Regions from separate parts of the Homo sapiens genome. Here region 2 is linked to region 1. Evidence: fine-mapped expression QTL. A gene starts in region 1. The other region holds a variant in brackets. All regions are shown on one strand. Distances are between the middles of the regions.

Region 1 (2,906 bases):
GATCTCGGCTCACTGCAACCTCCGCCTCCCAGGTTCAAGCGATTCACCTGCCTCAGCCTCCCGAGCAGCTGGGACTACAGGCGCCTGCCACCACGCCCGGCTAATTTTTTGTATTTTTAGTACAGACGGGGTTTCACCATGTTGGCCAGGATGGTCTCGATCTCCTGACCTCGTGATCCCCCCGCCTCGGCCTCCCAAAGTGCTGAGATTACAGGCATGAGCCACCGCGCTAGGCCGAAAGAATCTTCTTTCAATCAACGAACATTTACTTAAGTGGTACTATGTGTAAACACTGTAGGAACTGAGGCTCCAGCATTAAGCAAAATAACCACGATCCTTACCCTCACATGGGTAAGGATGCTGGGCCATTACTTACACACAGACACACACAAACACATACACACACGCACACGCCCAAGTGCCAGGAAGGAAAATGAAAGGGTCTTGACGTGCCAGTGGAGCAGAGGAAGGGTTGCAGATGTGTCATTCTCTCATTCCTCAAACATATGTACACTGTATTGTGCACATAGTCATTAGAAAAATCCCTTATTGAGGCCGGGCACAGTGGCTCACGACTGTAGTCCCAGCACTTTGGGAGACAGAGGCGGGCAGATCACTTGAGGTCAGGAGTTGGAGACCAGCCTGGTGAAACCCCATCTCTACTAAAAATACAAAAATTAGCGGGGCATGGTGGTACGCGCCTGTAATTCCAGCTACTCAGGAGGCTGAGGCAGGAGAATCGCTTGAACCTGGGAGGCGGAGGTTGCAGTGAGCCGAGATGGTACCACTGCACTCCAGTCTGGGTGACACAGCGAGACTCCATCTGCAAAAAGAAAAAAAAAAGAAAGAGAGAAAAATCCCTTATTGAGCAGGAAACATAGCTTATGCCCATAATCCTAGGAGTCGGGAGGCTGAGGTGAGAGGATCACCTGAGCCCAGTAGGTCAAGGCTGCAGTGATCCGTGATTCATTGCGCCACTGACTCCAGCCTGGACAACAGAGCCAGACCCCGTCTCAAAATAACAACAACAAATCAGAGAGAGAAAAGAGAAATCCCTATGTAGGTCTGCAACAAAATAAACACGGATGGCAGGTGTGGGGGGAGGACATGGAAACGCAATCGAGGACGCAAAGGTGCCCCACCCCAAGAAGGAGTAAACAGTATCTAGGCCAAGTTGGGGAGGGGAGGAAGTGAGGAGGAAAACATGGACGGGCGGTGGTGTTGGCCGGTGCAGGATGGGAGAGGAATTTGCTCCTAATACTGGCCTCCTGGGCCTTGGCTGGAGCATTTACGGCACTTCACAACTCTCAGACTGGGCGAGTGGCCATGAGGGGAAAACCAGTGCAAATTCCCCAGGCCCAATTGTCCGGAAGAAGACGAGGCAAGTCCGCGTAAAGATTTTTAGACGGTGTACCTTGGCTAGGGAACGGAGGGGCGAGGGAATTCGGGACCCAAATCCCCTCTAAGGCCCACATTAATAACTACCCCCAAGAGGTTGCAGCGCAACCACTACTGGAACGTGAAGTCCCCGGCACGCCCCAACAACAGGACCATTGGCCACGCCCCTAGGGGCGGGGCACTGCATGGAAAGCCCCGCCTTCGCCCTAAGGCTCCGCCTCTGACCTCTGCGCAGGCGTAGCTCAAATCTTTCCCGCCCTCTAGTCGTGCGCGGATCTGACGCCTGACGTAATTGCGTAGACGCCATTTTAGCCGGTCAGACAAGCACTGGACGTGGCGGCCATTTTGTTTTGGACACCGAGCAGGAGCTGGCGGCCGCTGCAGACGAAAGGCAGGAAAGGGCAGGCCGGGTGAGCAGACGGATCGGCCGACTAGACAGCCAACCAGCAACAACGAACTGAGCTCGCATACTACCGCTTACGCATCTAACCAACCGCCCATCTAGCTAACCCGAGCCCCTCCACCGTCAACTCAGGTTCGGCCGGTCCCCGGCCCGCCTGCCGGAGCCGTGGTGGCAGCCCCGGGAGGAGCACTGGCGTCTGTTTCCTTCGGTGAGTTTCGGTAGTGAGAAGGAGCCGGGGGAGGTGCGGTCTTGAGGAGCGGAAGGGGCCGGCGGACGCGGAAAGGGGGTGGTGGCATGTGGACATAGCTACGGTGTTGGAGCGTGGAGGCCCCGGGGAGGAGGCGGAGCCCCTGCGAAGGGGCGGGGGAGGGGCTGAACTGGAACCTGGTGGCGGGATTGATGGAGGTTGGGGTTTGATAGGATAAAAAGGAAACTTGGCGGGTAGAGCAGAAGTGGAAGTCTTGACAGGGCTTTGAGGATGGTAGGGAGATTAAGAAGTACAAGACTTTGAGGAATGTTGGAAATTAATGGCGGCTTTAGGGTTAAGTTTTGTGGAGGGCTCTTTGCGAGCTAATTCCCAGGTGAATTTAGAAAACCTTTCCTACTCCCCCAGATCGTCAGTTTCTTGTTAAAGTCCCTACTTGATTCTGGAGTTGAAAGCCACTTTTGAAACTAGGCATGCATATATATATGTATATATATACATACATATATATATATATTTTTTTTTGGGGGGGGACGGAGTTTCGCTCTTGTTGCCCAGGCTGGAGTGCAATGGCACGATCTCAGCTCACTACAACTTCCGCCTCCCGGGTTCAAGCGATTCTCCTGCCTCAGCCTCCGGAGTAGCTGGGATTACAGCCATGCGCCACCACGCCCGGCTAATTTTGTATTTTTAGTAGAGACATTTCTCCATGATGGTCAAGCTGGTCTCGAACTCCCAACCTCAGGTGATCCGCCCGCCTCGGCCTCCCAAAGTGCTGGGAAAACAGGCGTGAGCCACCGCGCCCGGCCCTGCCTGTATTTTCACTGTAGATCAGTGGTTCTCAACTTTAGCTGCACATTAGAAGCACCTAGGTAGCTTTCCCCCGACCCCACAATTGGT
Region 2 (2,906 bases), 51 kb before region 1:
CCCAGCTAATATTTTTTTGTAGAGACAGGGTTTCCTCATGTTGCCCAGACTGGTCTCGAACTCCAGGCTCAAGTGCGCCACTGACCTTGGCCTCTCAAAGTGCTGGGATTACAGGTGTGAGCCACTGTTCCCAGCCAGGCACATCATGTTCTAAGAAAAGAAAATGATCCAGACTTATCAAAGCCAGGACATATTCTGATAAAGTTATTGCGTTAAGGAAAAATAGCTAGACTTCCATTTCTATCGATTATTTTTCTTTTCTTTCTTTTTTTCTTTTGTTTGTTTGGTTTTTTTTTTTATTTTCAACAGGGGCTTCTGCAATAGAATCTATCTGGTTAAAACATGACAGTGATACTTTTTTTATTTCACAGCTAAGTTCACATTAAAGTAAAGAAAACCCTTCTAGGCCCAAAGCGAAGGGGAAACTAAAAACCAATTAGGCGTGAGTTAATGCTACAGCTGTTCTTGGGAAGGGACGGTTTCTAATCTCAGAAAACAAGGGGCTTCAGTTTTCAAGGACCAATCGTGAAGAGATGGGTCCTTATAACTGCAAGTATCTGGGAATCCGAAAGCCACCTTACATGAAGCAAGGTGCCCCAAGTACCACTTTCTTGGTGAAAGAATGGGCTGAAAGAAAAAACCTCTCATGAGCAAAATGAGATTTCGAGGAAGCTTGTACGTCTTCGCCTGGGCTCTGGATGGAGAAAGTTTTCTTAGAGAAATTTTAACCTTGGGCCTGTCTTCATGCAGATTTGGGATTTTAGTTTACATGGCTGGAATGGTTCAGAAAACCCCAAAGCCAAGAAGTCAACATAAAAAGTAATACTAAACTGGTTTTGGCCTTGGGGCACTTGGGAAAAGCAAAACAAAATTACTTTGAAGACTTATACTCTTAAACCAGATTAACCAGGATTCCCCCAGCTAAAGCTGAGGTTGACATTTTTTAAATTAGATGAAATAGGCAGCTTTGCAGGAAAAAAAATTATATATATGTAAATTTTATATATATGTAAATTATTTATATGTAAAGCTGACCAACATTGACTAAGAAGGAGAAAATCTGAAGACCTATAATCATTAAAGAAATTGATTAGCAGTATAAATCTACCTAACAAAGATAAAATTGATGGTTTTCATAGACAAGTTTACCAAATAAGAAAAAAAATCCTTTTCCACGGTCTCCCTCTGATGCCAAGCCGAAGCTGGACTGTACTGCTGCCATCTCGGCTCACTGCAACCTCCCTGCCTGATTCTCCTGCCTCAGCCTGCCGAGTGCCTGCGATTGCAGGCGCGCGCCGCCACGCCTGACTGGTTTTTGTATTTTTTTGGTGGAGACGGGGTTTCGCTGTGTTGGCCGGGCTGGTCTCCAGCTCCTAACCGCGAGTGATCCGCCAGCCTCGGCCTCCCGAGGCGCCGGGATTGCAGACGGAGTCTCGTTCACTCAGTGCTCAATGGTGCCCAGGCTGGAATGCAGTGGCGTGATCTCGGCTCGCTACAACCACCTCCCAGCCGCCTGCCTTGGCCTCCCAAAGAGCCGAGATTGCAGCCTCTGCCCGGCCGCCACCCCGTCTGGGAAGTGAGGAGCGTCTCTGCCTGGCTGCCCATCGTCTGGGATGTGAGGAGCCCCTCTGCCTGGCTGCCCAGTCTGGAAAGTGAGGAGCGTCTCTGCCCGGCCGCCATCCCATCTAGGAAATGAGGAGCGTCTCTGCCCGGCCGCCCATCGTCTGAGATGTGGGAAGCGCCTCTGCCCCGCCGCCCCGTCTGGGATGTGA[T/G]AAGCGCCTCTGCCCGGCCGCGACCCCGTCTGAGAAGTGAGGAGACCCTCTGCCTGGCAACCGCCCCGTCTGAGAAGTGAGGAGTCCCTCCGCCCGGCAGCCACCCCGTCTGAGAAGTGAGGAGCCCCTCCCTCCGTCAGCCACCCCGTCTGGGAAGTGAGGAGCGTCTCCACCCGGCAGCCACCCCCGTCCGGGAGGGAGGTGGGGGGGTCAGCCCTCCGCCCGGCCAGCCGCCCCGTCCGGGAGGTGCGGGGCGCCTCTGCCCAACCGCCCCTACTGGGAAGTGAGGAGCCCCTCTGCCCGGCCAGCTGCCCCGTCCGGGAGGGAGGTGGGGGGGGTCAGCCCCCCGCCCGGCCAGCCGCCCCGTCCGGGAGGTGAGGGGTGCCTCTGCCCGGCCGCCTCTACTGGGAAGTGAGGAGCCCCTCTGCCCGGCCACCACCCTGTCTGGGAGGTCTACCCAACAGCTCATTGAGAACCGGCCATGATGACAATGGCGGTTTTGTGGAATAGAAAGGGCGGAAAGGTGGGGAAAAGATTGAGAAATCGGATGGTTGCCGTGTCTGTGTAGAAAGTAGACATGGGAGACTTTTCATTTTGTTCTGTACTAAGAAAAATTCTTCTGCCTTGGGATCCTGTTGATCTGTGACCTTACCCCCAACCCTGTGCTCTCTGAAACATGTGCTGTGTCCACTCAGGGTTAAATGGATTAAGGGCGGTGCAAGATGTGCTTTGTTAAACAGATGCTTGAAGGCAGCATGCTCATTAAGAGTCAACACCACTCCCTAATCTTAAGTACCCAGGGACACAAACACTGCAGAAGGCCGCAGGGTCCTCTGCCTAGGAAAACCAGAGACCTTTGTTCACTTGTTTATCTGCTGACCTTACCTCCACTATTGTCCTATGGCCCTGCCAAATCCCCCTCTGCGAGAAACACCCAAGAATGATCAATTAAAAAATAAATAAATAAATAAATTTAAAAAAAAAAAAAACAAAAGTCAGCCAAAAAAAAAAAGAAAAAAAAATCATACAAACTTAAATTTCCAGAAAATAGAAAAAGGAAATACTGCCCATATGTGGCATATATAAAATAACCTTTATGGTAGAGACTGCTAATTGTCCTATTACCTATTCTCC

Direction of the effects. Alleles are on the strand shown, and positions count from the first base shown. SD is a standard deviation of normalised expression in the study named.
As copies of T replace G in region 2, the expression in adrenal gland of the gene that starts at base 1,732 in region 1 goes up (small effect, 0.36 SD a copy in GTEx).

Evidence for each region. PIP is the estimated chance that this variant, and not a neighbour inherited with it, causes the effect. A credible set is the group of variants that fine-mapping cannot tell apart.
Region 2: its variant is the best candidate, but not a certain one, in a credible set for the expression of CHTOP in adrenal gland (GTEx, PIP 0.64).

The regions. Positions count from the first base shown.
Region 1 is chr1:153,632,335-153,635,240 of GRCh38, forward strand. CHTOP (chromatin target of PRMT1) reads left to right here and starts at 1,732. Exons shown (of 6, transcript NM_015607.4): 1 at 1,732-2,009. It also overlaps a transcript of S100A13 not described here. RefSeq lists an enhancer at 1,706-1,815 and a silencer at 2,156-2,235.
Region 2 is chr1:153,581,170-153,584,075 of GRCh38, forward strand. No RefSeq gene overlaps it. Among named protein-coding and RNA genes, the nearest start is that of S100A2, 17 kb to the left of the region's middle. RefSeq lists an enhancer at 1,914-2,838. The variant T/G (reference allele first, on the strand shown) is at 1,773.